Linked DNA regions of Homo sapiens: all the other regions are linked to region 4. The links come from fine-mapping of genetic effects on gene expression. A gene starts in region 4. Each other region holds a variant in brackets. All regions are shown on one strand. Distances are between the middles of the regions.

The links. PIP is the estimated chance that this variant, and not a neighbour inherited with it, causes the effect. A credible set is the group of variants that fine-mapping cannot tell apart.
Region 1: its variant is the best candidate, but not a certain one, in a credible set for the expression of RBM43 in monocytes (TOPMed, PIP 0.58).
Region 2: its variant is the best candidate, but not a certain one, in a credible set for the expression of RBM43 in naive CD4 T cells (Schmiedel 2018, PIP 0.88).
Region 3: its variant is the best candidate, but not a certain one, in a credible set for the expression of RBM43 in CD4 T cells (Kasela 2017, PIP 0.82).

The regions. Positions count from the first base shown.
Region 1 is chr2:151,225,114-151,230,268 of GRCh38, reverse strand. No RefSeq gene overlaps it. Among named protein-coding and RNA genes, the nearest start is that of RBM43, 34 kb to the left of the region's middle. The variant C/T (reference allele first, on the strand shown) is at 2,078.
Region 2 is chr2:151,211,932-151,217,086 of GRCh38, reverse strand. No RefSeq gene overlaps it. Among named protein-coding and RNA genes, the nearest start is that of RBM43, 47 kb to the left of the region's middle. The variant C/T (reference allele first, on the strand shown) is at 2,995.
Region 3 is chr2:151,186,979-151,192,133 of GRCh38, reverse strand. No RefSeq gene overlaps it. Among named protein-coding and RNA genes, the nearest start is that of RBM43, 72 kb to the left of the region's middle. The variant CCT/T (reference allele first, on the strand shown) is at 2,850.
Region 4 is chr2:151,258,674-151,263,828 of GRCh38, reverse strand. RBM43 (RNA binding motif protein 43) reads left to right here and starts at 1,966. Exons shown (of 4, transcript NM_198557.3): 1 at 1,966-2,104. The coding sequence starts at 2,102. RefSeq lists an enhancer at 1,883-2,112 and a silencer at 2,153-2,422.

The DNA of each region.
Region 1 (5,155 bases), 34 kb after region 4:
TGGTGGGCTATTTTTCAATTTACCATATACCCATTAATATTGTGCCTCACAACTAAATTGGCTCCTGCTAGACATCTTCAATGGCTTCCTACTTCTTCCCACACAAATTCATATTTATTTTAGTGTTTTTAAGGCCTTTTATATTTGGAGTCCCTTCTTTCTAATTTCAGCCCTCACTTCTTCCTTGCATTTAACCTCTGTTGTGATAGGGTAGTCTTTGTATATTTAGTCAAACTTCTGTGCCAGCTCTCTCACTGGGAATGTCTTTTCTTTGATCCATAAAAATCCTACTCATTATTTAAGGTTCATGCTGAAATCTTGCCTCTTAACTGAGACTTCTCATGGAACTCTGTCCTCTTTGGTTTCTTTCTTCATGATCTTCTAAGGCATTTATGGTTTTTGTACAAAACTTATTATATATATGTTTATATATACAATATTAGTTTTTTTACTATTACTTCACTTGTGTTTTCCTTGCCTCCTCATTTTATTTATAAACTCTTTGAAAGCAGAAAAAAAGTCATATGTATTTTGCTATTAAATCACCCTTAGCATGGTTTTAAGCTTATGGTAATGCCAAATAAAATATTTGCTCACTGCCTCATTGGGAGCTCTTTCAGTAGGTCCATGGTTTTCAGAGACTTTCACTTAGAATATGGGAAAATAGAGCCCAGACTTGCCATCTACTGAAGAAACAGAAGGGGATTTTTTATGTACCCATTCTGTAATCCACTGTAAAGCTATTCTTCTTCATTTGCATTTTAAGATCTATGATTTATAATCTTTATAACCAAACTTTTTCAACATTGTGATAAAAGCTAACTGGCACCCAGTGCATCCATTATCCCAAGTGACTTCACTTTGTGGTCTAGTGCTTGGTTTGGTCCTATGTCCTTGTGGTTTATAGAGGACTCTGTTGCCTCTCCTGAGCTCAGTTGGGTTCCAGGGATGAATAGCCATCATAAAAGTTTCCTGCTAGGCTTAGTCCACTTCACTCCTGCTGTGGGTAGTTTTTTTGTGTGGGTACTAAACATTGTGCTGAGTATTTTACATGTAACATCTCATTTACTCATTTCATTATACTTGAGGATAATTCAGGGAGTAGGTTTGGGTTAAGTAAAGGGATATAAAGTTGTTCAATTCTGTGTTCAATGATTCTTCTTGAGATGTTATGGCATAGCTCAGTAACAAAAGGAATTCTTCTGGACAGTTTTCATTTTGGCCCAATGCCTGAAAGGTAACTACTACATGTTTCATCACAGTATGGAGGGCAGTGAGTCAATTGTTTCTTGAATTTTAGAACACTCAGCTATCTTGCCATTCAAACAACTGACTCTATCCAGTAAGTTCCAGTGTTTTCTAGAGGGTGCTGAATATTCTTATCTTTTTAAAATTTAGATGTGGGTCTCTTTCTTATTGGGGTTGGGGCCAAATGGAAGGATAGATTTGGTTGCTTAAGCCATTGAAGTCTGATTACAAATTGAATGTGACAAGTAAGACTGCCAGTCTAGAAGTTATAACCAAAAGCAACCCTCCCAGTTTTTCCTAATGCTATATATGTTTTTTTGTGTATATTTTTCTATGCTCAGTATTTATGGTGATCAGAAAAACAAGTCATATTATCTGACACATCATACATCAAGATATTTGCAAACATGCTAACCATTTCAACAGAAGTTAGAATTTTATGTACAATATGGTATCTTTTTGTAGTTCTGGGCTCAGCTATGAAAATCTGTTCCATTCTTGTAGTTTTCTGAAACTAAAATTTTGACTCTTTCTAGACTATGGCAGAGTGTATGTGAATGACAAAGTAAATCCTCTCATTTTGTAATTTTGGACTTAAATTTTTGGTCTCATGTTTAAAGTCTCTTCCATGATCTATGTAAGTGAGTGGATAAATGAAAGAGCATATTCATTGGTATCTTCCACAGGGGCCTCTCTGGCCACTCTTTAGGATGACCAGGTACTTATAATGAGGCCCTATGTATGAAGAGCCTTTCATGCAAGGTGATTTTTGGAGGGCTTGAACACAGAGACAAGGCCTTTCTCAAACTTACAAGAATAAACTATGTGG[C/T]TTTTTTGTCTGTTTGCTTGCTAGTAATTATTGGTGCATTTTGGTATAATTTTGTCTAAGACTTGTTTTCATTATAATATGCCACCAGGAAGGAAATTGTGGGGTAGTGGAAGATGCCCCCACCTACTTCTGATTGTGAATCTATCAAGGAGGCTTTCAACATTTACCAAAAAACCCCCGATAATTGCTAAATAGACAGTTTGGCTTAGGTCAGTTTGCAATACTGAACCTGGCAGAAAGGTATTATTATTATTGCTTTCATCTTATGTATATACCTAATACACTTAAATGAATATGCTGAAGCTCATAAAATTAAGTGACTGGTCAGTGACAGAGTTAGGCTGTCAGAGGTATTTGTATTTGCTCTTTATCTTTATGCTAAACAATTGAGTTATGTTTATATTCACCCTGGATAATTGGCAATTATATGAAGAATATAACCTGCCATATAGAGTAGGGCAAGAAAATGTTAGAAGACTTAATAGTACTGAAACAAAAACGGCTTCTCTTTTGGAGTTAGCAGCACTTAGAAGCATGGCACATATTTTGCACATTAAGTAGGCCTATTTTGTCTCTTATTCCTGTTGCTATGGAAGAGAAAATACGTAGGAAGGAACTTATTGATTTCCTATAAGGCAAACTCACTAGTGGAATTTTGCCTGAAAGGGACTCTATTGCCCAAATCTCACAAGGTGAGAAGCCGTTATTGACCCAATATCATGAAGACATAAGAGAAGTTGGCTTGTGTAGATAATGTAGTTACTGACATAGAAATTGATTCCTGGACACACACACACACACACACACACACACACACACACCCCTCACATACACAGACATCTTTATATTCTATAAAGCTATTTTGATTCATTTCAATCAATTCATTTTTCTCTATGTTGATGTCTCAAATTATGGACTATTTTACATATTATTTTAGCCAGAAATAGCTGTCTTCAAAGAATATAAATATTGACTATAATAAAATGCCAGTATGTAGCTTCTACATTTATATTAATTTTGATAGATATTAAATGATAATATCATTTAATGATATTATTAATAATATCTCGGCTCACTGCAAGCTCTGCCTCCTGGGTTCACGCCATTCTCCTGCCTCAGGCTCCCGAGTAGCTGGGACTACAGGCGCCTGCCACCACGCCCGGCTAAATGATATTATTAATGATAATATCATTTAATAGCAATTTACATTGGGGTATCACTTTCAGTGAAATTTATAAAACACTTCACATAGCAAAATAAAACATTTGTCTCTTAAGGGTAAATACTGATGTCTGATTTATACTCTGTGAACAAAATATTAGACAGCCATCTGCATCACTATAGATTATGGAAGATTAGAGTAATAAAAAACTACGTTTTAGAAAAAGTGCAGCAGTGCAAAATGCTCATCTTAAATTTTTCTTACTAGCTGGTAAACTCATCTCAGCTAGGGAACATCTTTAATCACCATGAAATAAATAAATAAATCTCTGCTGTTACTCATCTTGCAGCACAATACATACAGTTGTCCATGTAACAAGCAGCCCTATTGCCATCCAATGCATGTATTATTTATACTGCTTAACTTTAGGATTTCTAATTTGTGGCTCATGTATGAAACCATAGTTTATTTTCTCTGTTCCAAGAATCCTGATATATATGAGGTATTTTTTTAAGCTATTAATCAACTTAGTATCTTATGCTTCAGTTTCTGCTGTTTTTTAAGAGTGATAGTTTGTGTTTTGGATGTGCTCCCCAGGTTCTCTTTAAACACACTTGATGACACTATCACACAGCTTACTTTTTATATCTAGGTGATTTCAAATATAACTGCATATTTGATAAGTATTTGATTGGGTCTTTTGTGCTTGACATAGTAATAAAAAAACTAGATGGAAATTTAATTCTTTATATAAAGTAGAAAATGAGGAATAGGAACCGATATACAAAAACAAAGCAAGTGATAATCTTCAACTCTGTTGTGGAACTGTGCAAAGCTAACTCTAAATTTAGCAGAAACGTAAAGTTCTATCCTTGGGTTCAAACAGCAACTTGCATAGGTAAAGGTTGGGGGTTATGTAACTTTTTTTTTTTGAGACAGTCTCGCTCTTGCCCAGGCTGGAGTGCAGCGGCGCCATCTCGGCTCACTGCAAGCTCTGCCTCCCGGGTTCACGCCATTCTCCTGCCTCAGCCTCCCAAGTAGCTGGGACTACAGGCGCCCGCCACCACGCCCGGCTAATTTTTTTTGTATTTTTTAGTAGAGACGGGGTTTCACCGTGTTAGCCAGGATGGTCTTGATCTCCTGACTTTGTGATCCGCCCACCTCCGCCTCCCAAAGTGCTGAGATTACAGGCGTGAGCCACCGCGCCCGGCCGGGGGGATATGTAACTTAAATAGAGTAAAGTAGATATTATGGTTGTCTAACATTCATTGGACACTTCTTCTCTTGTGTAGCTGCCATATGGTTTAGGTGAGCCCCAGAAGTGGGACCTAAGCCAATGGGGTAATAGAGGTTCTATGTCATCTGCCCCAACGATTGGTTCAGGTGACCCAGGCTTTAGCCAATTATTGCTTGTGTTTCTCCAACCGCAAGGACTGGTTCTGAGGTGGTCCAAATACCAAGTAGCTCAACACTTTTGATCAATGATTGTGGAACTTCTCTGTCTCCAAGAGGGAACAAGAATGCATATGGCCTTATATTGCTGCTGCAAATGATCTTGCCTCCGTGAGAAAAGTTAACTGGAGGACAAAGCCAGCACATGATGGGAAAATTACAGAGAAACAGGGTGAGGCAGCGCTTGAACTATATCAGTTCACATTATTTCTGGACTTTTCAGTTACTTGAAGCAAGCTTCCTTTGTAGATTTAGTTAGTTTGAATTGGATTTTTCTGTTTTATTAAAAATTATGTATTTATTTTTGTTAAAAAACTTAAAATAATACAAGTATCATATCTGGAAAAAACCTAGAGAGGATTTCTGGGATTAGAAAATAGTAAATTGAGCTAACGAGATTACCCATCTGCTACAAAAACTTTAATATACTGGAAAAAATATTTTAAAACAACCAGAAATAAGGA
Region 2 (5,155 bases), 47 kb after region 4:
AGCCCCGTATGGATACTTTCCACTGATAACAACATGAGGGATGAGAAAATTAGAATATTCTAGCATTACTAATTTGCTTTATTATACACAGAATCATCTCAGAATACTAATACTAATACAACCACTGCCAATATGATCAGAGAAAAGACTTAGTTTTGTTGTAACTATTGTCTGTGGCTTTTGGTTTTGCTGTATATTTGTTTTGTCTGTTTTCATGTGACGATTTGGGGGGATTCAAATCTATGCTACTGTTCCTATAGCAGCATATGTTCCAAATCCCCTTTTGAAAAGTGGTGAAATATTCTTCCCTGGATAATTAAACATACACAAAGAGTAGTCCAATGGGCTGATGACTGTTTAATTTAGTCTAGGATGCGCTTTGTTGTTCACTACTAAAGGCCATTGTAGTGAACTAAAAGAACATTGTAGTGTACTAAAGTCCACATGGTGGTCTCTTCTGGTTCATCCTACTGGGGATTCTAGAATAAGTTCAGTCAAGCTGCAATAGCAGTCAGAAGGTGTCTCTGGGGCTGTGATCAGTAGAGGGCCCCAGGCACCGCTTGTAGAGGCTTAATCTAGCTAATAATCTCTTTTTTTGAGACCCAGTTTCACTTGTTGCGCAGGCTGGAGTGCAATGGCATGATCTCAGCTCACTGCAACCTCTGCCTCCCAGGTTCAAGTGATTCTCCTGCCTCAGCCTCCCGAACAGCTGGGATTACAGGCGTGCACCACCACGCCCGGCTAAATTTTGTATTTTTATTAGAGGTGGGGTTTCACCATGTTGGCCAGGCTGGTCTCGAACTCCTGACCTCCAGTTTTCCACCTGCCTTGGCCTCCCAAAGTGCTGGGATTACAGGTATGAGCCACTGCACCCGGCTCAATAATCTTAAGCAACTCTTCAAAACTACCAACATAAATAAACAATCTAAGTCAAAACAGTGTGATTGCTATCAAAATGCAGATTAAGAACCGTACCCTACTGCCTCTTTTCAATCAGATTGCTTCTCTACACCCCTTCTATGTAGATTTTCTGGAGCTGGCACTTGCAATAGTGAACATGTACTGTTTTGGTTGCCCATCACCCATTTCCCTTACTTTGGCACACACACTAATTTCCTTTTGAAGAATTAACTCTCCCTCTGGAAATTTTCTTTTTGGGATTGTCTACCCACTAAGCAGGCAAGTGACTCCAGCTTGGTTAATCAGATGCTCCTGGAACTTCCAGTCTTGATTGGAGCAATGCAGAAAGGGTACGAGATGCTAGGAGATTATTCGTTCCAGTGATGGTAGGTGTGGAGAATGTTGATTAATTCCACTTGCTTTGGAGCTACCCTGATTCCTAACCTTTTTTCGACTTGTTTCTCTGGTATTGCTATCAATTTTGTATGTCCCCTGATATCTACCTAATATATTCATGTTCTGTTTAAAGTTGTTTGTTACTTGTGACCAAACAACTATCACTGATTTAGTGGTGATCTCTGGAGTACATAAGAAATCTTGTCTATTTTAATTGCAATACCTCTTCTAGCAGTTCTGATCCTCTTTCCCTGCTCTATTTAAAAAACACACACTTTATAACTTACTTATTGTGTTTATTGTCTATCTCTTTCACTAAAATATAAGCTCTATGAATGCAAGGATTCTTGATTTAAATGTGTTTCTTTGACTCGTGTATCCCAAATACCTATGACAATTAGTGGAACATAGTAGGTACTCAAGAAATATTTGTAAATTTAATAAAGTCTTTAAGCCACTGATTTGTGAATTTCTTGATGGTCTATATGGAGCAATGCTTAGTGCCCAGTTTGTTGTAAAACCTTGGCATGTTTTTGCTGCAGATGGTTTGGTATGTTATCACTGAGTGGGTTAGGAGAAAATGTAATAACATGAGGACAGTAACCAGCTGCTTTGCATCTCCAAGGGTATGAACAAAACTCTGGGCTCAGATGGTTAAAGTTCTACACAATTGTCCAGATCTTGATATCTAACCAAAGTCCATTTTACTTTTTAAGGGAAATTTTGGAAATATCAATAGTAAGGTAAAAGTAGATTTGATTAAATGACTCAAAAGTAATGCATTCATTTTTGAATTTTTTTAAAATTTAAAATTTGCACTTATTCCAACAAAATGACACAGCACCCAATTGAGACTGAATGTCGTAATCGGACAGCAGATCTCAAGGTGGCAAGTACAGCCAGTAGAGGATGGCTAGTGTGATTTGAATAATATTGTAGAAACTGAGCCCAGAATGAGGTTATTACCAGAATGTTACAGTTGCTAGTGGAAGGTAAATTGAACAACTAATATTGGAACGGAAAGAAGAGTATTTATTAAGCAAGCATTAAGTTTTACATGAGATTTACATATGTTATTTTACATATGACTTTCATATGTTTTTTTCACTTTATCCTCAGAAGAAGCCTATGTGTTAACATCTTCATTTTATAAACAGAGAAACTGATATGAGAAGCTAGTTAACTTGTGGTCACACAAGAAAATGGCAGATCCAGAATCTGGCTCACGTTGACTGATTCTAAATTTCTGATACTTTCCACTACATCACCTCCAACCAAGAAATTAGTTATTAAGTCTGAAATTATAGAAAACAAGCCAACTTTTCTGGGTAAAGATGGTGGATGAATATAGGCAATAGCTATCACCCTCTTGTCGAACCCTAAGCCCCTCTAATCTAAACTTTTTTTTTTTTTGAGACGGAGTCTTGCTCTGTCACCCAGGCTGGAGTACAGTGGTGCAATCTTGGCTTACTGCAACCTTCACCTCCCAGGTTTAAGCGGTCCTCCCACCTGCCTCCCACCAGCCTCCCAAGTAGCTAAGATTATAGGCGTGTACCACCAGGCTCAGCTAATTGTTTTTGTGTTTTTAGTAGAGGCAGGGTTTCTCCATGTTGGCCAGGCTGGTCGCAAACTCCTGACCTCAAATGAACCACCTGCCTCAACCTCCCAAAGTGCTGGGATTACAGGCATGAGCCCCTG[C/T]GCCCGGCCTAAACTTTTTTTTTTTTTTTTTTTTTAAGGCATAAACACTTGAGGACAAGAGAATGGGAGAGAAAATGAATAAAATTTTGAAAATTGATAAGTAGATGGGAAAGTGGTAATTGATTAAGCAGATCTGACATGACTGAATCCTCACTAAGCAGTGGAGAAAGTTGAGAAACAAATTGATTTACACTGAGTTGAATCCCTAAGGCTTAATTAGAGCGGATACCTCTGTAAGTGCAAAGAAAGTAGTCTGATTTCTTTCAGAAGCAGTTAAGCTCCCTAGGCCTGCGTCCCGATTCTACAGAGTTGTATGACGGCTTGCTCTTCCATCATCATGGAAGAAGATTGAAGCTATATTCCCAGGAAATGTAACATGGAAGGGGTAACGTAGAAAGGATTCCAAGCACAATTGAGGACAGGGGCCCATACTGAAGGCAGGGAAGAAGGTAAAATTTGTATACTCAATTCTGAAATCACTGAATCACTGTCTTTCCCTACAAACCTCACAGAAAGCCAGCAGCCAGTCCCATACCCTATAGGAGAGGAATTCGGATGATCATTCTCTGGGGAATCTCAGCAGCCCATGGCTTTCCAAGAGGAGAGACCTAATGACATTAACGCTAGGGATTCCTTAGGGAAATAGCTGTCCTCATCGCTTGGAACTGGAGCCCATGGCAAAACAGCCCCACCTTTGTGCTCAAAACTTCTAATCAACTTTTTAATAAATGTAAACAAATTTAATTGTGGTAAAAAAACACATGAAATTTTTCATCTTAACCATTTTTAAGTGTAGAGTTCAGTAAGTATTTCAGAATATTCACATTGCTGTGTGACAGATCTCCAGAACATTTTCATCCTGCAAACCTGAAACTGTATGCTTATTGAACAACTCCCATTTCCCCCTCTTCCCTGGAAACCACCACACTTCTGTTTCTATGAGTTTGACCACTTCAGATCTCTTGCATAAGTGGACTCATACAATATTTGCCCTTCTGTGACTGGCTTATTTCACTTAGCATAATGTCCTCAAGTTGCATCCTTGTTGTATAGCATGTGACAAGATTTCCTTTTTTATTTAATATAAAATATTCCAGGTTTTAATCGACTTGTAAAGCTTCACTCTTAAGTATGTACAGACAATCTGCAATTATCAGGCATCAGAGCAAAGCTTCTTGTATGTAGTAAACAACATAAAACACCAAACAACTCAGGGATAAGATAACTTTACAAAAACTATCACTTAAAACCTCAGAGAAGGCCGGTCATGGTGGCTCATGCCTGTAATCCCAGCATTTTGGGAGGCTGAGGCAGGCAGATTACCTGAGGTCAGGAGTTCAAGACCAGCTTGGCCAACATGGCGAAACCGCGTCTCTACTAAAAACACAAAAATTAGCTGGGCATGGTGGCGTGTGCCTGTATTCCTAGCTACTTGTGAGGCTGAGGCAGGAGAATCGCTTGAACCCGGGCAGTGGAGGTTGCAGAGAGCCGAGATCGCGCCACTGTACTCCAGCCTGGGCAACAGAAGGGACTCTATCTGAAAACAAAAACAAAAACAAAACAAAACCTCAGAGAATAGGAGATTCCATACAGGAAGCAAGAATAGAATAATTGTAACAAAAAGATCAGTAAAAACAAAAACAAAGAGTTGTTGGGAAAACCTGAAAGAATGGTTGAAATGTAAAGCTGAATAATTTCTCAGAAAGTGGAAAAAAGAGAAAAAGGATGAAAAATGAGAGAAAAAAGATAAGAAAATTAGAGCACAACGTCAGGAAACCTAAAATCCAAAATAATAGGAATTTTACAAAGAGAAAACAGATAAAATAGAGGAGAGGAATTCATCAACAAAATAATTACAAAAATTATGCAGAACTGAAGCACATGAATTTCTTGGTTGAAGGGTCCACCTCATTCACTGCACAATGGTGCAGCATGATGAAATCTCAGGACACCAGGGACAATAAGGGAACTCTACCAATTTTATTTTATGTTTTTTTTACAAAGAGAGATAAAAAAGAATTCAAAGTTAGAATGGCATCAATATTGCAACAGCAATGCTGGAAACTCTAAGATAATGGAGAAATGTCTTCAAAATTATAATAGAAAATGATCTCCAATTTAAAATTATTTGCCCAGCTAATTTATTAATCAAGGTATCCAA
Region 3 (5,155 bases), 72 kb after region 4:
TTTCAGATTTTCTTTAAAGCCAAATATGCCTATAAAACTTAAAAAACTTAACAGTTTTATGGGGGGCTGGGGCTGGAGCAGGGGTCTTTCATGATTCTTTCATCTTTTAAGTTGCCTCCTTCCGTTCAGATGGACAACTGACTGTTCCCCTGGCAGCTTTTGCCAGGCTTATAGGAGCCAGTCACCTGGGAGGCCGTGTCTTTCATGAGAGAATCAGCATTCTCTAGACCTTCTGTTTTTCATGTCCTTTTTCTGTTCCTTTGAAAAGAGACATAAGGAAGCAGGAAAGCTGGATTTTGGTCTTGGTTCTACCTTAGATGGCTGCCTGATTTGAACCAATCAGTTGGTGTTTCCGGGTCTCCTTTCTAATCAGTAAAATGAGAAGAGTAGGCTTAATGATCACTAAATTTGCATCTGGTAGTGCAATTTTAAAAAACGAAAATAATTTTGAAAGTCCATTTTTGAAAATGCCACCAAATCATGAATTTCTCTATTCATATTCACATGCTAACTATCAAGGACATGTGTTGTGCTTTTATGAAGGCAAAAAATGGCTTGGAACTTTTGGGAAACTTCTATTTAGTAGAGCTAAACGATTCATGTCATGTCCAGTAGTGGCAAACTGCATTCTTGAGTAATGGTGGAATATATTTTCTCAGGTGAAAGCTTAAATTCAGTTCTACTGGGGCTTAATTAAGCAATACTGTCTGAAGTCATGAGCAATTCTGTGAATAAAATCGCTGAAGAAATAGAAATGCCTCAGAATGCAATGCTGGTCTATAGCATTTGAGACATGATCTGGTTTAGTTTGTTTGAATTCTTACATTGGAAGGCAATTCAGGGCTCTCTGTTGAATGGAGCAGGGGTGAATCCCAATGGCCTTGCCCTGTTGCAAAGAGCTAGGGAAGTTTATTTTATTTCTGGACTATTGGGTGAAATCCTGAAACCAATTTTCTGCTGGAAATTGTGTGTATCCTTCTGGCAACAAGCTGCCTGAGCAGCGAGCTGTCACATTTCAATGCAGAAGCCTTTTGTTTGGCAATGAGATAATTTTAGTTCTTATGCTATTAGGAATGTATTTAGAAATTCAGCATAAATGCTTTTGGAGTATACTGGGCTATTCATAGGGGAGCTAAGGTCCAGGGCAAATCATAGTATATTTTCTTTTCCTACTTTCTCATCTGCCCCTCCTTTCAAATGCCAAGTTTTGATGTAGTAAAAAGAATACCAAGGGCAACCTTGAAAAGTGGTTCCTAAAGCACAGTATGTGCAGAGTGCAGGGAGGTACACAGCAGCATCCATTCCTTACCTTACTAATGGAGGAGGTGGAAGAGCTATCTGAAAGCTGAATCTGTACATAGGTTGTTGCGGTTTTCTTGACACCTACTGGCTTTTGCACTAGTAAGCTTTATTAGCTTTTTCAGATTTAAACATCTAAGATACTAAGACAAACTGGACATGTTGTAAAGGATGTGTTGAGATTTGAATTGCTCATAGGTCCATGAGGACAGATAATCCAATCCTGTTTATTGTATTTCATTTTTTTTTAGAGACAGGGTCTTTCTATGTTGCCCAGGCTGGAGTACAGTGGCTATTCACAGATATGATCATAACTCACTGCAGCCTTGAACTACTGGGTTCAAGCAATCCTCCTGCCTCAGCCTCCTGCACAGCTGGGACTTACAGGTGCACACCACCATGCCCAGCTTAAATCCTGTTTATTTTTATCTTTAATTTTATTTATTTTATTTTATTTTTTTGAGACGGAGTCTCGCTCTGTCGCCCAGGCCGGACTGCGGACTGCAGTGGCGCAATCTCGGCTCACTGCAAGCTCCGCTTCCCGGGTTCACGCCATTCTCCTGCCTCAGCCTCCCGAGTAGCTGGGACTACAGGCGCCCGCCACCGCGCCCGGCTAATTTTTTGTATTTTTAGTAGAGACGGGGTTTCACCTTGTTAGCCAGGATGGTCTCGGTCTCCTGACCTCATGATCCACCCGCCTCGGCCTCCCAAAGTGCTGGGATTACAGGCGTGAGCCACCGCGCCCGGCCTATCTTTAATTTTTATAGTGTAAATTATCCATTTGTTCTTATGTGCTACAAGAATGATATTTAAACATTTTCCTAATATCATTGTGTGCTTCTTCATTGCTTATGCAAGGAAAAGGAGACATGAGTAATAAGGAGACACCATGTTTAAGTGGCTTAAATGTCTTCTTAACGTTGAGCTTTGTGTAGAATGTAACCTGAACAGAATGATGGTGTCTTCTGTCTTTTCCATGAAATTTCTGTTCACTTAAAATTTTTTTTTATGTACCAACAAAGACCAAACTGCAGCGTTTTCTTTACATTTTCTTATATTTGTTCTGTTCACCTAACCTTTCACGAACGCTTTTGAGTTCAATGGAGCATATAATTATTACATCATATAGAAATAGTTGGGGGAAACAAATGGCATAGTGCAAAAGATATAATTTATGGAGGGAAGTCATCCAGAAAAAACTGTAAGGAATGTTTAATTTATTTTAAACCTCTGAATACCATTGCCTTTTTCCCTTTCAGTTGTCCACATTACATTCTTTGTGTGACACAGGAAAAATTATTAAATACACATCTATATAAAAATCCAACAGTGGTTGCTATAAAAATTAAGATGTTGTAATTTTAATGACAATAGGAAACCAGCAGAAATTTAAGGCATTTACTTCCTTGATTAAAGTATATGACTATACCTAGAGTCAAGTTATTCTCATTTGTCAGCAGCTGAAATGACTTCCTGTGTTCCTCAATTTTAGAAAGATGCAAAGGTGAGATCCCAGCCTTAGAGAGAACTAGCAGGAAGTGGTTCGCGCG[CCT/T]GTGTGTGTGTGTGTGTGTGTGTGTGTGTGTGTGTATGGTGGTAGAATGGAAATACTACTGATATTTTGATGCTAATTTTATCCCCAAACCAGATCTATAGCATACATGGCTGTAGTGGTATAAAAATAATGCACTTACACAAGCATACTTACCATATGTGTATTTGTGTTTGTGTATATGTGCATAAACATGTATGCATACCTTGTAAATTTGTGAATAGTATACTTATTTTGGAATTAGGATTTTAAAAATAAGCAGATATAGAGTATAGTAATATGGGGAAGCATCATTTTGAAAGATTTACTTGAATATTTAGGTTTTTGGCTTCTATTAAATCTCCGTGCCTATCTATGGGTTTTCTCATCTTTTAGCTCAGCAGCTGTCAACACTGGATTCAACAGAATCACCTGGGTAACTTAAAAAAAAAAATTCTAGTGCCCAGACTCCATCCCCAGAGATTCTGATTTAATTGGTTTGGGAGTAGGATTGGGCATTGGTGATTTTTAAAAGCTCCCTTGGTGATTCTAGTGTGCAGGTAGGGTCGACAGCAACTGCTTTAGCCATGTGTTGACAAGCAATCCCTGGCAGTACCTAACGACAGTTATTTGGTGATCCTGAGTTTGCAGATATTTTTCCTGACTCGTTGTGGTTGTTGCTGGAACCCAGAGATGCTGAGGCCTTTGAAAGGGCACCATCTATAGCTTCAGGCAAAACACCCAGGAAGAACAAAGCAAGTGAAAGGATTGAGGAGGACCTAAAAGTTGGGCAATTTGCACAAGATTAAAAACCTTAGTGGAGTCAGGACTTGAACCCAGGTCTTCTATAGTGATGTGGTTGAGGGTCAGGGCTCTGGAGTCAGACTGTTGGCTTGGATGTGTTGGCTCCTACAGTAACTAGCTGGTTGAGGGATGATGGGCATGTTATTTTTTTGTCTGCCTGGTAAAGATTTGTTACCTCTCAGTTCCTGAGCCAGTGATGTTTGGGAAAGAAAAATATAGCATTAGTGTCAGTCTTATGTAGCAGGTTTTAGCTACTTAACCTCTCTTGGCCAATGTTTTCTCACGCCTGAAATCCCAGCACTCTGGGATGCCAAGGCAGGTGGATCACAAGGTCAGGAGTTCAAGACCAGCCTGGCCAAGATGGTGAAACCCCATCTCTATTAAAAATACAAAAATTAGCTGGGTGTGGTGGCAGGCGCCTGTAATCCCACTTACTCGGGAGGCTGAGGGAGGAGAATTGCTTGAACCGGGGAGGTGGTGAAAGTTGCAGTGAGCCGAGATCATGTCACTGCACTCCAGCCTGGGCGACAGAGCAAGACTCTGTCTCAAAAAAAAAAAAAAAAAAAAAAAGGAGCTAATTATTATGATGCCTACTTCATAGGTTGGGTGGATAAGAGGATTAAATGAGGTAACAAATGTGAAACCACTTGTGACTGTACCTCACACATAATATCTCCTCAATACATGTGAAATATTATTAATTTTTATTACCTGACTACATTTTATTCTCTATTATACTGTACTCAGATTCTTCAACTCAACGTGATCGAAATGATGGATGAGCCTTCCATCTTCTTTGATAACAGTTCCTTGTATGACTTCAGTTGTCTTTTCTTCTAAGCCAACTATAGATGTAAAGAATAAATCTCTATTGCTTATTTTTAATTATGTCCTAGAAATAAAAAAGGGGCTATATGTAAATAGCATTAAAGTAGATCCATATACAGATCTATTTTATATGGATACAGATCCATATAAAAATGGAATTTTGCTGTAATAATCATAGCTATTATATGGTATTTACTATGTTCCAGGTATAATTTTAAATGTTTTACATAAAATATTTAAAAAACTTTTTGTTATAAAAAATTCCAAAACTACACAGGGGTGCCTGTGTATGTATAGTACATGAACCTCTATATACGCACAATTCTTTTTTTTTTTTTTTTTTTTTTTGAGACAGGGTCTTGCTCTGTTACCCAGGCTGGAGTACAGTGTTGCCATCATGGCTCTGTACAGCCTCAACCTCCTAGGCCCAAGTGGTCCTCTCACCTCAGACACCCAAGTAGCTGGGACTTACCTGCAGGAGTCTACCACCATGCCCAGCTAATATTTGTAGTTTTTTTGACAATTCATTTTTAACTATTATCCACTCATGGACAATTTTGTCTATACCCTTGTACCCCAACTTTCTTGATATCATAGACACTTTTCTCTAAGTAGTTCAATGTGCTTCTCAAAAACATAAAGAACTTTAAAGAAAGATACTCACAATACCATTACTACACATAAATGTAGCCCTTA
Region 4 (5,155 bases):
TTGACATTCAAGTGGGCACTTAGATATATAAATCTGGAGATAAAATATAAATTGGGGAATTACATACAGATCTACCTCATGCTGTTTTTTTTTTTTTTCCTTCTTGAGATAGAGTCTTGTTCTCTCGCCCAGGCTGGAGTGCAGTGGTGTGATCTTGGCTCACTCTGCCTCCCGGGTTCAAGCGATTCTCTAGCCTCAGCCTCCCGAGTAGCTGAGATTACAGGTGTGTGCCACCACGCCCGGCTAATTTTTGTATTTTTAGTACAGACGGGTTTCACCATGTTGCTCAAGCTGGTCTTGAATTCCTGAGCTCAAAATGATCCGCCCACCTTGGCCTCCCAAAGTTCTGGGAATACAGGCGGGAGCCACTTCCCCCTACCTCATTCTGTTTTAAAATCTTCATAGCCTTGTGCCTTACTGATATATCATCAGCCGTATAACAAATAGCTCCATCCAATGATAAACTAGGTGGATCCCAGTTTATAAAAAAATTATTACTACCTGTATTTCAAGCAATGTACAACTAAAATTTCTATACAATATCTTAGTGCCATTTGCGCACTATAACTTCAAGTTCAGTTCTAAAAGTAGAATTGCTGAGACTAAGAATATGTGCATTTTACATTTTTTTGCACTTTACATTTTGATAAAAATCTTTAGAAGTATTTGCATCCATCTATGCTTGCAGCAACTCTGATGCTTACATTCAGGCTAACACTTTCTGGTTTTGCAGATCTAGTTGTGAAAAATGGTATCTTATTATTTCAATTTACATTTCTTAGGAGTGGGATTGGGTTTCTTCATATCTGCTAGCCATCTACCTTTGTTCTTCATGCATTCATTGATTTGATTTTGAAGTTTGTCCAGAGATTCCCTGTGTCCCCACAGGCGCCATTCGGGGTTCCTGTGCTAAGGCATGGACAAGGTGGTGAGCTCTCTGCTGGCAGGGACCTGGCGCTCTCATCCTGTGTCCTTAGCACCCGGCAGAGGTCCAAGAGGGCTCCTGGTCTGGGCTGGGAAGGTGACCAACACGGCGTTGGGGGTTGAGGTGGGGGTTGGGGAACTGGGGTAGGTTGTGCAGAGGAAAAGGCCCAGGTGAGCGGTGGGGGAAGGGGAAGAAGTCTGGACAGATAATAAGGGCGTAGGAAAGACATCCAGATTTCACTGAGTGCAGGGCTTTTTAAAACTGATGTTAGAAAAACTTGATTTGCTGTTGTAAAAAACCATCTGTGTGAAGTAGAAATTGATATCAATAACATGATAGAGAATACGTTCTAAAAAGTAAAGGTAGCTGGATGTAAAATTCTGGCAGAAGTTTAATATCCTAGATGGTTAGTTTGAGGCCAGCAACTAATGAGGATAAAAGCCTTCTCCATGGAAAATTTTGGACAGTTATCTGGAGAAATATTACAGTGCGCATCAACCAAATTGAAATGTTTTCAAAAGTGTTGTAAAGTTTCATGTAGTAAAAAGGTTTTAGCCACATGCCCTTCAATTTCATGGCATCGAATATATAAACACAGAAGAGAGCATGCATGCAAGATATTTAACTCCCTTACATGATAATGCATGCGATTCAAAACTATCATGACATCTAGGGCTCTCTGCAACTACGAGATGATTGATGTTAGGAAAAGCGTAGCCCCCCAGTATCAACACAGGAAGCGGCCACCACCTACTATGTGTTTTCCCTTTTTGCGTTTTTTCTTTTTTTAAATCAACTCTGCCGTTGTTGCTGCTGCTTAGCAAAACGGGTAAAAACAAAATTGCAATCACTGATGCATCACCCAGAGAATTCCCAAATTTCCTGTCGAGGAATCCTCTCGGCCTCTCTCCAGAGTGCTTCCACAAGTTGCAAAACTACGGAGGGCGTCTGGGCAGGCGCTGGCAACAGCACTCCTGAGTCCGAGCTCCCACTCAGAGGCCACGAGGTCGCAGAACAGCCGGATCGGGTGGAAGGACCGCCCTTTTCTTCGTAGCCTCCAAGGGAGCTGGAACAAAAAACGAAACCAAAACCTGCCTGCTCGCTCCTCTCCCCATCGCCTGCGTTCCGCTGGTTGTGGGCTTTCTGCGGCCGCTGAGGGCGCGTCTCCCCTCCGCCATGGCAAGTTGCTTTTGCTTTGGGTTTTGCGGTGCAGGTCCGTGCCTGTACCGTCGCCATGGTCCCCTAGAAGGGCGCGGAACCGGGCGCGACGGGCCAGGGTGCAGGGCTGCGCGGGAGGGGGCGGCGCACGGAGGGGCCCCAGGGACCCCGGGGGCCCCGGAGAGCCGTCCACCCCGGCGGGCAAACTCAGGTCAGCCTCGCTGCACCCTTCCCAGGTGGCGGCATTGCGCGCTCCTGAAATTCACGTACGGCGGTGCAGTATAGGCCCGCTCCAGAGGCTCAGGACTAGGCTGTCACCTCCCACACCCACTGCCCAGGCGACGGGGACGCCGCCGTTCGTCGAGGAGCTGCTTCGCAGGCTGTTAGGGCTTAACTGTTGTCCTCCCACGCCTCGGGGGGAACAAAAGTGGCCTGATTAGCCAGAAATGGAGGTCACAGCTGCCTTTTGAAAAGGGCTAATAAGAACGATTCGAGCCAAGGACGCAAGTCAGGAAGACATCCTCATGTCTTATGTCTGCCTTGGTGCGAATTCTTGTCTTAGCAAATTCAAAATTTATCCTTCTGTGTTTTGTTTTGTTTCCATCAATCGCTTAAAAGCCTTGGCAAGGCCTTTAATTCCTGCTCTGAAATGCTAGAGTCCCGGAAATGCAAAAGCAAGTACGTTTTTGTTGACCTGGTGGCGGTAGAGGCGTCGTCATTGAAAATAAACAACTGATTTTGAGAAAATCAATATAAACAAATGCAGTCAATGAATCTTCTGTTTCTTCCCAATGCCTTACTTACAAAAGTAAAGTTTTGCTATATACTTTTTGCTTTCTGATAAGATGGCCAAGTCTGTTATAACACAATACTGATGCAAGGAAATGCGCCATCACGTTAGTATGTCTTGGCTAAAAGCTGCTCGTTTCAAAGTCCTTGAAAGGACTGTCTTTCTCTAGGCATTTCTTTATCTTAATCGTGGGTAGAAGAGATGAACAACCCTCATTATTCATAATTGACCTCAGTAAAATTATCTATGTTAGCCATACTTTCTCCAACCTATGAAAGGGAGTTAAGGACAAATATTGGCAAGTCATTGAAGTACTAATTCATTAGATGATTCATAGAAACTAGTTCTTACCAAACAAAATTTACATCTTTATGTTTTTTTCTTCTAAAAATACTGGTTCAGGGAGAAGTTTCTTTGATTTTAAAGATAAATTACCAGTAGACATTCGAATAAAGAAATATGGTATTAGTACTAATGAGGGCATAGAGCTGAAGTAAGATTTCCTGAGTTTAAATTGATTGCATGTTTTTCTTTGATATTGTTGGGGTGCAGAAAATGATCTCCCTGCCCGGCACGGTGGCTCACGCCTGTAATCCCAGCACTTTGGGAGGCGAAGGAGGGCGGATCACTTGAGGTCAGGAGTCTCTACTAAAAATACAAAAATTAGCTGGGCGTGATGGCATCCACCTGTAGTCTCAGCTACTGGGGAGGCTGAGGTGGGAGGATCACTTGAGCCCAGGAGGCGGAGGTTGCAGGGAGCCAAGATCACGCCATTGTTCTCCAGCCTGGGCAACAGAGCGAGGCGCTGTCTAAAAAAAAAAAAAGACTTCGAGAGGCCGAGGGGGGAGCGGATCACGAGGTCAGGAGTTTGAGACCAGCCTGGTCAACATGGTGAAACCCCATCTCTACTAAAAATACAAAAATTAGTCGGGCATGGTGGCTGATGCCTGTAGTCCCAGCTACTCAGGAGGCTGGGGCAGGAGAATCGCTTGAACCCGGGAGGTGGAGGTTGCAGTGAGCCAAGATCGCGCCACTGCACTCCAGCGTAGGTGACAGAGCTAGACTCCATCTCAAAACAAACAAACAAACAAAAAACAAGAAAAGAAAAAGATCTCCCAAAAGAAATAAAAACAAATGCAGTGAGTGAATCTTCTATTTCTCCCTAGTGCTTCACTTAGAAAAATAAAGTTTTTCTTTATGCCTTTTTTGCTTTCTGATATGATGGCCCTGCCTTTATTCTTACATTGACAGGGTTGAGCATTTCTGTTTTTTTGTAACCATATTTAAATTTTCAATGTTTTTATTTTTATTTTTTTTGAGACAGAGTCTCACTCTGTCACCCAGGCTGGAGTGCAGTGGTGCGATCTTGGCTCACTGCAACCTCCACCTCCTGTGTTCCAGCCATTCTGGTTCCTCAGCCTCTGGAGTAGCTGGGATTACAGGCGCCTGCCTCCACTAATTTTTGTATTTTTAGTAGAGATGGCGTTTCACTATGTTGGCCAGGCTGATCTCGAACTCCTGACTTCAAGTGATCTGCCCACCTCATCTTCCCAAAGTGTTGGGATTACAGCCGTGAACTACTGCACCTGGCCTTTTTTAAGACTTAGCAGGTTTGGTCTAAAGGTGAAAAACCGATAATAATGTAAACAGTAAATATTGTTTATAGCAGGTCCCAATAGTGTGCTATGATTACTTTTTCTCCTTTTGGTCCAGTGTTATGTGTATTTTTCCTTTTCCACTTCTAGGAAAATGTTCCCAGCAAATGGGTCAAATGGATTTTCTTTCTTTCTTTCCTTTCTTTCTTCCTTTTTTTTTTTGGGGACGAAGTCTCCCTCTATTGCCCAGGCAGGCTGGAGTGCAGTGGTGCTCACTATAACCTCTACCTCCCAGGTTCAAGCCATTCTCCTGCCTCAGCCTCCCAAGTAGCTGGGACTACAGGCATGTGCCACCACGCCCAGCTAATTTTTGTAGTTTTAGTAGAGTTGGGGTTTCACCATGTTGGCCGGGCTGGTCTCGAACTCCTGACCTTAGGTGATCTGCCCGCCTCATCCTCCCAAAGTGCAGGGATTACAGGTGTGAGCCACCGTGCCCGGCCTGCATTCCATAATTTACTTAAAATCATGCAAGTACTTTAGTTTTCTTATGATTTTTAGGCTGGGGCCCCTTCAAATCCCAGAAATGGGAGAGAACTTGCTCTGGGATATACATGCTAGCAGGTTCTCTCTGAAGTGTTCATTCAGGCATTTTTTGTTTTTGAGACAGAGCCTTGCTCTGTCACCCAG